Regions from separate parts of the Homo sapiens genome. Here all the other regions are linked to region 1. The links come from fine-mapping of genetic effects on gene expression. A gene starts in region 1. Each other region holds a variant in brackets. All regions are shown on one strand. Distances are from middle to middle.

Region 1 (2,745 bases):
CTAATTCTTAACATTTACATTGTCACAACGCGGCGAAAAGGTACACATTTCCTCTCATTTGAGAAAAGAACGCTGTACACTATTTTGCCAGACATCCTACATATGATGCAGTCTGTTCACAGGCCATTTTCAAAGACGTGAGAGACATGAGAAGATCTCAGGACGAACTGATGGTCCACTTGGCCATTCCCTACAGTAAGAATTTTATAGACAAATACAGGGTAACAGCAAACAACATTTCCAAACGCTCCGGCAGTGTGTAGTCGCAGCAAATGCTAGGAAAAAAAATAAATAATGGCTCCTCTTCAGTTGTATGCCGTGAATGTAAATTAAGAAGCCGCTACAACGCTCGACATAACCTTTCTGACGCCACAAAAATGAATGAATTATATCCATACACACACACAGGCACACACACCACGCACCACGCATCACATGTCATTCTGAAAACTGATTCTGAGCTTAATTCGAAAAACGTGAAATACAACTGGTCCCGTCAACAGCTCGTAATCTGAAGGTTTCTTGCATTTCCAAGCACGTCCATAACACCTCATCCGTTTCCAGTTTGTTACTGTTTCCAACCGAAGGGAGAGAATTTTCCACACAGAATTATCTCCTCGGGTCCAAATACTAGACCGAAGTCCCCACACGGGGCTGGCTGGCGGCGTGGAACCGGCCAGCCCGCCGAGAGCCGCCTGGCGCCCGCGGGGAAGACGCAGAGCCCGCGGCCAGGAGCCGCCCGGTGCCCCGGGAGTCGCCGGCCCTCGGCGGCCGCGCGAGGGGGATTCGCGCCCTCTGCCCATACCCGGACCCCCGCGCCGCCCGCCAAGCGGTCGGAGGCGCCTCTGAGGCGGAATGACTCAGGACCAACTTTCCAATAACGCCCGGGCCCCCCCGGCCGGCCCGGGCAGCGCGCTCGGCCACGCAGCCCCTGAGCCGCCCGTCCCCCCGCGTGAAACCCGCGGCCCCGCGGGGTGCCGGGTCCTCAACGCCAGCGGGGGTCACGGCCGTAGCGAGGCCTGCGCGCCCCGTTTCCTGAAAAGGTGCGGGCGCCCCGGCCCCCTCGGGCCCCGAGCCCGGCCTCCGGGACAAAGTTTGCCGAAGTTGAGGCGTCCGGAGGCGGGAGGCAGCCCGGCTGGGGCGCGGGGCCAGGCTGAAGCCGCGCCCCGCCGTCGCCGCTGGGACGGGCCGGGCCTGCGCCGCGCCGGGCCCGCGCCGGGCAGCCCCGAGGCCCCCGGGCCCCGCCGCCCAGGGCGCGGGATGGAGGCGACGGGGATGGAGGCGCCCGGCCGCGCGCCGGAGGCCCGCCCGCCCGCCGCGGCCCCTTACCTCGCGGTCCGTCGCCGCTCGGCCGGCTCAGGGGCGCCGGGCGCGTCCTCCGCCGCGGTCCGCAGCGTTCTGCTCCCCGGGCTGCCCCATGGCGGGGGGCGGGGAAGAGCCGGCGGCCGCCGCGGCTGCCGCCGGCTGGAAAGTCCCGGCTGGGCTGCAACCCCGGCTCGCGCACGCGGCGGCCGCGCCGCGCTCCCTCGCTCCCTCGCTCCCTCACGCAGCCCCGCGCAGGCACTTCCTCTCGCGCGCTGGAAATCCCCGGCGCGCCCGCCGCCCCGCCCCCGCCGCCCGCGCGCGTGGGAGCGGCAGGAGCCCGCGAGCGCCGCCGGCCCCACGCGCCCGCCGGCCCCCCGCGCGCGCCCGCGACCCGTTGCTAAGGGCCCTAGCGCCCGGCGGCCGCCCGCCCGGCCTTAGCAACGGCGGCGCCGCGGCGCGGGGCGGGGACGGCCCCGGGCGCCCCCCGCCTCCCTCCCGTCCCCGCCGCGCGCCCCGCGGGCCTCCTCGCTCTGCGCCGCCCCCGCCGCGCCCCCGCCGCCGCGCGTCCCCGCGTCCCCGCCTTTCCGGGTCAAAAAGCCACGCAGGCCGCGTGGGGGCCGAGAGGTGCTGGCGCCGCTCCTCCCCGCGGCCACCTCGCCCGCACCCCCCACGCCAGCATAGCATACGCAGCCCCCGTGCGTGCACGCCCGTGTGCCCATGGCCACACGCGACCCCTACGCACACGCACGGGTCCGATATGCGGCCCCCCGCACTGTCGCGGACGCATACACGACGGTCACATTCCCCTCAAGCGGACACGCACACACACGCTCACCAACACCGTGCGCACGCGTACCAGGCCACGCACCCTCGCGCACACGCAGGTGGGGCTGAGGGTGACTCAGGCCGTGGAGCCCCTTTTCGCATGCAGAGGGCAGGGCTCCACATTAGTTTGGTGGCACTTTCCTTTCTCCCTCCCTTGGACCCTCCCACGCCCCCGGAGTGGTGTCTTGCTCACGGGTGGACAGGGTAGCCAGTTTGCCACGTGCCCCCAGCGTCCTCGGCGGTCCTGGCTGCCCCTGCGCCCCCTGCACCCTCCACCAGGCCGCTGGGGCCTGCGCATTTCTCCCGAGGCCTCTGCCTTCTGCCCCAAAGGCATCAGTGGTGTGTCAGTGATTCACCTAGGCCCACCAAGGCAGCACCCAGCCTGGCTGGGCCTGGCGAGGTGGGAAGCGAAGGGAGGGCTTCTGGGAGGCTCTGGGCCAGCTGAGGGGTGAGGCCTTCGCTGGAGTTTGCAAGTCAGTGGTGAGGGGACAGAAAGGACTTTGCATTTTTCACTTCTCAAGAAGGCTTATAAAGAGCCCTACCCCAGAGCTGAGACCAGTGTGAGTAGCCAAGGCCAGTCTGCCTTCTTGTATTGCTCCAGTGACTCATGTGAGT
Region 2 (2,745 bases), 38 kb before region 1:
ATTTTAAATCTCCTAGCAGCTACAATTAAAGAGTAAAAAGAAGTCAGTAAAATTTACTGTGTATTATTTAACACAACATTAAACTTTATCATTTCAACATGTAATATTATCAAAAATTATTAACAGGATATTTTGCATTTTTTTAAACCACACTTAATCTTCAAAATCTGGTGTGTGGGGCTAGCCTGTGGCCTGTACAATCGGTGTATGGTAGCTAATGCATGTAATCGTAGCACTTTGGGAGGCTGAGGAGGGTGGACTGCTTGAGCTCAGGAGTTCGAGACCAGCCTGGCCAACATGGTAAAACCCCATCTCTACAAAAAATACAAAAATTAGGCGAGGGTGGTGGCATGTGCTCGTAGTCCCAGCTACTTGGGGGGCTGAGGTGAGAGGATCACCTGAGCCCAGGAGGCGGAGGTTGAAGAGAACTGAGATGGCATCACTACACTCCTGCCTGGGCAACAGAGTGAGACCCTGTTTCTTAAAAAAAAAAAAATAGAATTTAGAGTCCAGAAATAAGCCCTTATATTTATGGTCAATTGGTGTTTTTTTATGGAAAATACATTTTTGATAAGGGCACCAAGACCATTCAATGGAGAAAGAATAGTAATACGGTTTGGCTCTGTGTCCACCCAAATCTCATCTCGAATTGTAATCCCCATGTGTCAAGGGAAGGAAGTGATTGGATTATAGTGGTGGTGTCCCCAGGCTGTTCTCATGACAGTGAGTGAATTATCACCAGATCTGATGGTTTTATAAATGGTAGTTTTTCCTGCACTCACACACGCTCCTTCTTGCCTGCTGCCATGTAAGACGTGCCTGCTTCCCCGTCTGCCTTGATTGTAAGTTTCCTGAGGCCTCCCCAGACATGTAGAACTGTGAATCAATTAAACCTCTTTCCTTTAAAAACTACCCAGTCTGGGGAATTTCTTTATAGCAGTATGAGAACAGACTAATACAAGTAGTCCCTTCAACAAATGAACTACAAAATGTAAATATACACATGTAAAAGAATGAAACTGGACCCCTATCTCACACCACAAAAATTGACTCAAAATAGATCACACAATAAGCCAGGCACAGTGGTATGCACTGTAGTCCTAACTACCTGGGAAGCTAAGGCAGAAAGATCACTTGAGCCCAAGTGTTCAAGGCTGCAGTACACTATGATCATGGCTATGGATAAGCACTGCACTCCAGCCTGGCAATACAGCAAGACCCAGTCTCAAAAAAATAAAAATAAAAAACCAACACATACACACATGATCACAGCAGAAAAGAACTAAAACTATATAATTCTTAGAAGAAAGATGTAAATCTTCACGACCTTGGATTAGGCAATGGTTTCTTAGAAATGACTCCAAGCCAGGAACAGTGGCTCACATCTGTAATCCCAACACTTTAGGAGGCTGAAGCAGGAGAACTGCTTGAGCCCAGCAGTTTGAGACCAGCCCGGGCAACATAGTAAAACTCTGTCTCTACAAAAAATAATTTAAAAAATTAACCAGGCATAATGGTACCGCCTGTAGCCCTAGCTACTCAGGAGGCTAAGGCAGTAGGCTCCCTTGAGCTCTAGAGGTCGAGGCTACAGTGAGCCA[T/C]GATTGTGCCACTGCACTACAGCCTGGCCAACAGTGCGAGATTCTGTCTCAGAAAAAGAAAGAAAAGAAAAGAAAAGGATACCAAAAGCACAATAAGCCAAAGAAAAAGTAGATAAACTGGACTTCATTTAAAGTTAAAAACTTTTGTACATCAAAGAACACCATCAAGAAATTGAAAAGAGGCCAGGTGCAGTGGTGTATGCCTGTAATCCCAGCACTTTGGGAGGCTGAGGTGGGTGGACCGCTTGAGCTCAGGAGCTCGAGACCAGCCTGGGCAACATGGCAAAACCCCGTCTCTACAAAAAAAAGTACAAAAAATTAGCCAGATGTGGTGGCATGTGCCTGCAGTCCCAGCTATTCAGGAGGCTGAGGTGGGAGGATCACCTAAGTCCAGGAGGTCAAGGCTGCACTGAGCTGTATCATGCCACTGCACTCCAGCCTAGATAACGAAGTGAGACCCTGTCTTGGGGGGGAAAAAAAGAAATCAAGATAATTAAAAGAGCAATCTCCATCAAAATACCAATGACATTGTTCACAGAAATAGAAAAAATATCCTAAAATTTGTATGAAACTGCAAAAGACCCCAAATAGCCAAAGCAATGCTGAGCAAGAAGAACAGAGCTGGAGGTATCACACTACCAAACCTTAAAATATACTACAAAGCTGTAGTAAGCAAAACGACACGGTACTGGTCTATAAAACAACTGGTATGTGTCTATAAAAACAGATACACAGACCAATGGAAAAGAATAGAAAACCCAGGAATTAACCTGCATATCTACAGCCAACTGATTTTTGACAAAGGCGCCAAGAACATTCATTGGGGAAAGGACAGTCTCTTCAACAAATGGTGCTGTGAAAATTAAATATCCATATGCAGAAGAGTGAAAATAGAAACTAGACCTCCACCTCTCATCCTATACAAAAATGAACTAAAAATGAATCAAAGACCTAAATATAAGACCCAAATGATAAAACTACTACAAAACATAGGGGAAATGCTTCATCACATTGGTCTGGGAAAAGATTTGATGAGTAACTGAAAAGCACGGACAACAAAAGCAAACATAAATGAATGGGATTATATCAAGCTAAAAAGCTTCAGCAAAACAAAGGAAACAATAGAATGAAAAGCCAACCTACAGAA
Region 3 (2,745 bases), 130 kb before region 1:
GTGGGTCATAAGGGCCCCCTCTGTCCACCCGCACAGGGAACACACATCTGCAAGTCCAGGCCTTCGCCCAGGGGTCCGGCGAGGCTTGCGCTCAGGAGACAGAACCACATTCATGCTTGATGGCTCCTAGAATTGACACAAATCCCAACCTGGCCGCCTGTGTGTCACCAGAGCACGGCGAGCTGAAAGGCCCAGCGTATGTCGGGGCTCACTCAGGCTCCCTCCAGCCCAGCTGGGGCTGGCATGTCTAGTCCCAAAGCCAGGCCCCGTGGGTCCCCCACTTCCACACCCTCACTGAGCCACCCAACCCTGCTAGAAAGGCCCTACTCCCAGCCTGGCCCCCATATCATCACGGACACACCCCAACGTCTAGCTCTGCAGGCTCCGCGGGACAAGCCCTAGAACCAGAGGGTCAGGCTTCCAGGCCCGGCTGCGGCTTGCACGTGGCTCAGTGTGGTCACAAGAGCCAGTGCCCTTCACGTGAGCCGGGCCCAGGCCAGCCAACCAGCGTGCCTGGCAGCAGGGAGCAGCCCGAGCCACGGTGTCCTGAAGAAACTGCTCGAGGCGAGGGGAGAGGGGACGTTGTTTTGTTACGAAGGTGACGGGGAAGCAGACCGGCTTAATTCATGCACAAACGACTCAGTTGGTTTCTGTAAAGTACTGAGCAGCTCTGTCCTGCTGGGAGTCTGGTCATGTGTGGTAAACAAGCAGCACCCCCAAGCACACAGTGTGCGCCCCCATTTCCCGCTTGCTGCCAGGGCCCTGTGATGCGGGGAGGGCCGATCACTGCCCAAGGGGCCACTGGGCCTCAGCTGCAGAGAGACCATGGCCCCAGGCTGGCCCAGGTGGCCAGCGCCAAGTGAGGGTGCCCAGGCCGAGGGTGGAGCAGCGCAAGGCTTGCCCGCCGCCGGGAGAGGGGACGCCGTCCCAGGCTGCTGCCCACTGTGTTGAGTACATGAGAGGAAGACACACTCAGAACAGAGACCCCGATACAACCAAACACAAAGACAAAGCGCGTGACACAGGCCATCCCATCCTCAAGGACCCCCATCACTCAGGTTCAAGGACAAAGTGTGTGACATAGGCCATCCCATCCTCAAGGACTCCTGTCACTCAGGTTACGTCTGTGGGACCCTCAGGTGGGCCCCATGGCGTCCCGCCAGGAGCGTCTGCCTGGGAAGGGCTACTGGAGACGTCCCAGTGACACGCACTGCTGCTTCTGGGGGCCACACCAGGACTTCAACCCAGAGGGGAGGAAAC[G/A]GTTCTTACTAGACCAAGATGTTGCATATCCTTCATCTAATATTATACATTTTGTGAAGGGGAAGTTGCAGGGATGTCCCTGTTGTTAACCCCTGGCCTCAGGAAAACTACCTGAGGGCAGGTAGGGGACAGGCCTCAGGTGGGGGACACCTTCGAGGGAACAGTAGTTTTCCGCAGCTTCTGCAGGAAGTCCTTCCTTTATGAGCAGGGACACACGACTCCCTCACAGGGCAGAACCAAGGATACTCATTCCCCCAAAGTAATCCCAGGAGAGCGGGGAAAGGAAAGGCAGATAAGAACAACGGAACGCTTCGACCGCGAAAGGGCGCGGCGGGCCCCTCACGGGAGCTCAGGGCACAGGGGTGCGACGGAGGGCACTTCCAGCAGGCACTGGGGCGAAGGCACACCCAGGACAGATGGCAGCACCAGAGACAGGTGGGCCACCGGGCACCCACCAAGCTGTCCCCGCGCGGCCACGGGGAGAGCCGAGGCAGGCAGTCTGACGTGCACGGCCCAGCTGGCCAATTGTGGGCGCGGCTTGTGGGCGAGTGGCACAGGTGTGACAGTTCGCACACATTGGTTTTGCCTAAGAAGCACCCGTCGCGTGTAGCACCCATCAGTGGTAAGAGCACCATGAAGCGTGGTGCATAGCAAAAGGGGTGCAGGGGGCAGGCTCCAGGCTTCTAATCACAGTTGGACACTGAGAGACAGTAAACAGTGAGTTGAGAAAATGCCATCTGGGCAGGCACAGGCTGGGACGACGGGCCCCGTGGCCACCCTTCCCGCCAGGGTGGTGGTCAGGAGCGCCCGTTGGTCAGCCTGGGCAGGCCCCCGAGCAGCGGTCTCTGGAATGCTCAGAGGGTTCTGCTTCGGGCTGTGGGGGTGCCCACGGCCCCGGTGGGGACACGGAGAGGCTCGGCTTCTGTTCCACACCTGCCTCCCTCAGGGTGGGACCAGGCCGTACTTGGACCAGGCGGCTCACTCGTGGGGCCTAGAGATTTGGAATCTGTGGTAATTAAGCAGCGGAGGCTCCAGAAGCCGACGGTGGAGCCTGGCTTCCCCTCAGCAGGTGCAGAGGTGTCTGAGGGCCCTTGTAGAGACAAAGATCTAGTGGTGGAGAGAAAAGTCTGGTTAAACTAGCACTTTCTAGAATGATGCTCAATGCAAACCCAGGGTGGAGAAGCAGCATGTCCCATCTAAGGCACGTGGGCCGTATGCCACCAGCTCTACGCACAACGTTGCTTTCGGAGACCGTTGACGGCATGCAGCAAGATGACGGGATGGAGAAACACACCTGCGGGCCTCCCTCAGCAGTCACCCGCCCACCCCTGACATGGAGACCGAAGGCCGGTGCTGTCAGCAACAGAGAGCTCGTCCGAACACATGGGGCAGAATCCAAACACCTACAGGATTTTGTTTAGAACTCCAAAGTTCAACGGATGCCCTATTTTAGGGTGAAAACAATTATAAATCTGAAAATGATGC
Region 4 (2,500 bases), 96 kb before region 1:
AAAACCTTTCAACTTTTAATTTTATTTTTCCCTTAGAAAACACAAGTATTCTCATTCTCACTCTTTTTTTAAGAGACAGGGTTGACTGGGAACAGTGACTCACCTCTGTAATCCCAGCACTTTGGGAGGCCGAGGTGGGTGGATCACCTGAGGTCAGGAGTTTGAGACCAGCCTGGCCAACACGGTGAAACCCCATCTCTACTAGAAATACAAAAAAATTAACCGGGTGTGGTGGCACATGCCTGTAGTCCCAGCTACTCGGGAGGCTGAGGCAGGGGAATCGCTTGAACCCGGGAGGAGGAGGTTGCAGTGAGCTGAGATCACGCCATTGTACTCCAGCCTGGGCAAGAGAGTGAGACTCTGTCTCAAAAAGAGACAGGGTGGGTTTCACTCTGTCACCCAGGCTGGAGCGCACTGGTGCAATCATGGCTTCACTACACCCTTAAACTCCTGGGCTCAAGCGATCCTCTCACCTCAGCCTCCTGAGTGGCTTGAACTACAGGCGCATGCCTCCAAGCCCAGGTAACTTTTTAATTTTCATTTTTGTAGAGATGGGGTCTCCATATGCTGCCCACTCTGGTCTCGAACTCCTGAGCCCAAGTGATCCACCTGCCTCAGCCTCCCAAAGTCCTGGGATCCCAGGCATAAGGCACCATGCCCAGCTCCCTCTCACTCTTTCTAACAACACGATCTACAACATCTTAGTCCAAAGGTTATTTCTAAGAAACTCCTGCCTGTTGCTCTATGAAAGTGGAATAACAGGAGCTTAATGTGCCTTTTTGGACTGCTGAGAGAAATAAAATCAACAGCTGTTAAGAGTTAAAAATAAACTAATTTGGAGCCAAAGCTTATCTTTCATAAACATGACTAAAAAAAAAAGAAGGTCATGACTTGAGATACTAAAGTCAACAGAACTTTGGAATGGAAAGGATCTGAGACTATTTACTCAAAATGTCTCTGTTTACAGATGAAGACCAGAGGCCCGCCCACCCCTGGATGACCTGCTGACGGGTGAGGATCCGGGTCACCCGGGGCCCAGACAGCTCCATTCT[C/T]TCCATGAGGGTCCACAACTTGAGTGCATCTCGTTCATGATTCTTTGATAAAACTAGCCATTTTTCTTCAGCTACTTATGTCATTAAAAAATAGGGATAATGATTCTGCATAACAAAACAGAGATACTAAAAAAACATCTCAGCCATCGTCGCGAGCTTCTCTCTCACTCACACGTTAGGCACATGTTAACAAGGCGGCCGAGTACCATGCTAGGCCAAGGCACAGAGTGGAGGGGAGGGGCTGTTTTCACTCAAGGAACTAACCAAGCCTGCAGCAGCAGCAGGTAAATGCAGAGAAAGAAAAGGTACAGGGCCAGGTGGCCAATTCCATCTCTCCCCCTTCCAGAGCGGCTATACTGGATGCCTGTGTGCCTGGCAGCCCAGGGACACTGACTACCAGCAATCCTCAAATCACTGCACTCACCTGGGCTGCTCTGACCAACAAACCCAATCTGCAAGGTGCTTTAGACAGGAAAACCCCAGAGTAAGAATTTTATTGTACAACTTAGTGACCTGCATTTAAAAAATGGTTAGGTATATTACTCAAAGTAGGGAAACACACATTTTTATTGATATTTTAAGCACTTTAAGAATGAATTGCTGGGTGCGGTGGCTCATGCCTGTAATCCCAGCACTTTGGGAGGCCGAGGCAGGTGGATCACCTGAGGTCAGGAGTTCGAGACTGGCCTAACCAACACGGTGAAACCCCGTCTCTACTAAAAATACAAAAATTAGCTGGGCGTGGTGGCTCGTGCCTGTAATCCCAGCTACTCGGGAGGCTGCGGCATGAGAATTGCTTGAACCTGGGAGGTGGAGGCTGCAGCGAGCCAAGATCGTGCCATTGTGCTCCAGCCTGTGCAACAAGAGTGAACTCTGTCGCAAAAAAAAAAGAAAAAGAAGAAAGAAAGGAGAGAGAAAGAAAAGAAAAGAATTGTTTCAAACTCCAAGTATACCTGGCAGGGTACAGCAGCACATGGATGACTGTCAGTCTCCATGAGAAGGACCAGGCCCCAGGAGAGAAGCTGGTGGCAGGCTGGGCAGCCCCATCCTCTGAATGTGCAGAGACGCCCACGGGCTCTAGCTGAGGACAGCCACAGGGGGCGAGAAGGGGCTAATCTCACTCATGTCTAATGACTTAAAGATATCACAGGGGGCCTGGGGGGCAGGGAGCACAAACTCAAATGAACCCCTCAGCCTAGCGAGTCTGAAGGTAAAACCTAGTGTAAGAGTTGAGTAGAAGCTGTCTGGGATAAAGACCTGCAATGACGGAAGTGACCCAACCACAGACAGCCCTGCCACAGACAGGCATCTCAGCACTTTGCTCACATCAACCCCTTACTCCTCACACCAGCTCCCTGCGGTCTTAGCAGGTGATATGATTATTACAGGTGAGGGGGTGAAGTAGCTCACAGAGTTCACACAGTAGGGAAGTGGCCAAGTGGATCTGA

Evidence for each region. PIP is the estimated chance that this variant, and not a neighbour inherited with it, causes the effect.
Region 2: its variant is fine-mapped to the expression of TRAF3 in whole blood (TOPMed, PIP 0.92).
Region 3: its variant is fine-mapped to the expression of TRAF3 in whole blood (INTERVAL, PIP above 0.99).
Region 4: its variant is fine-mapped to the expression of TRAF3 in whole blood (TOPMed, PIP above 0.99).

Annotation. Positions count from the first base shown.
Region 1 is chr14:102,776,260-102,779,004 of GRCh38, reverse strand. It overlaps TRAF3 (TNF receptor associated factor 3), which reads right to left and starts at 1,556. Exons shown (of 12, transcript NM_145725.3): 1 at 1,330-1,556. RefSeq lists silencers at 714-773, 1,014-1,063, 1,274-1,883, 1,974-2,033 and an enhancer at 2,744-2,745.
Region 2 is chr14:102,813,857-102,816,601 of GRCh38, reverse strand. The region is part of intron 1 of TRAF3 (TNF receptor associated factor 3); the gene reads right to left. Among named protein-coding and RNA genes, the nearest start is that of TRAF3, 38 kb to the right of the region's middle. The variant T/C (reference allele first, on the strand shown) is at 1,599.
Region 3 is chr14:102,906,621-102,909,365 of GRCh38, reverse strand. It overlaps TRAF3 (TNF receptor associated factor 3), which reads right to left. Exons shown (of 12, transcript NM_145725.3): 12 at 1-2,745. Among named protein-coding and RNA genes, the nearest start is that of AMN, 15 kb to the left of the region's middle. The variant G/A (reference allele first, on the strand shown) is at 1,261.
Region 4 is chr14:102,872,142-102,874,641 of GRCh38, reverse strand. The region is part of intron 4 of TRAF3 (TNF receptor associated factor 3); the gene reads right to left. Among named protein-coding and RNA genes, the nearest start is that of AMN, 49 kb to the left of the region's middle. The variant C/T (reference allele first, on the strand shown) is at 1,053.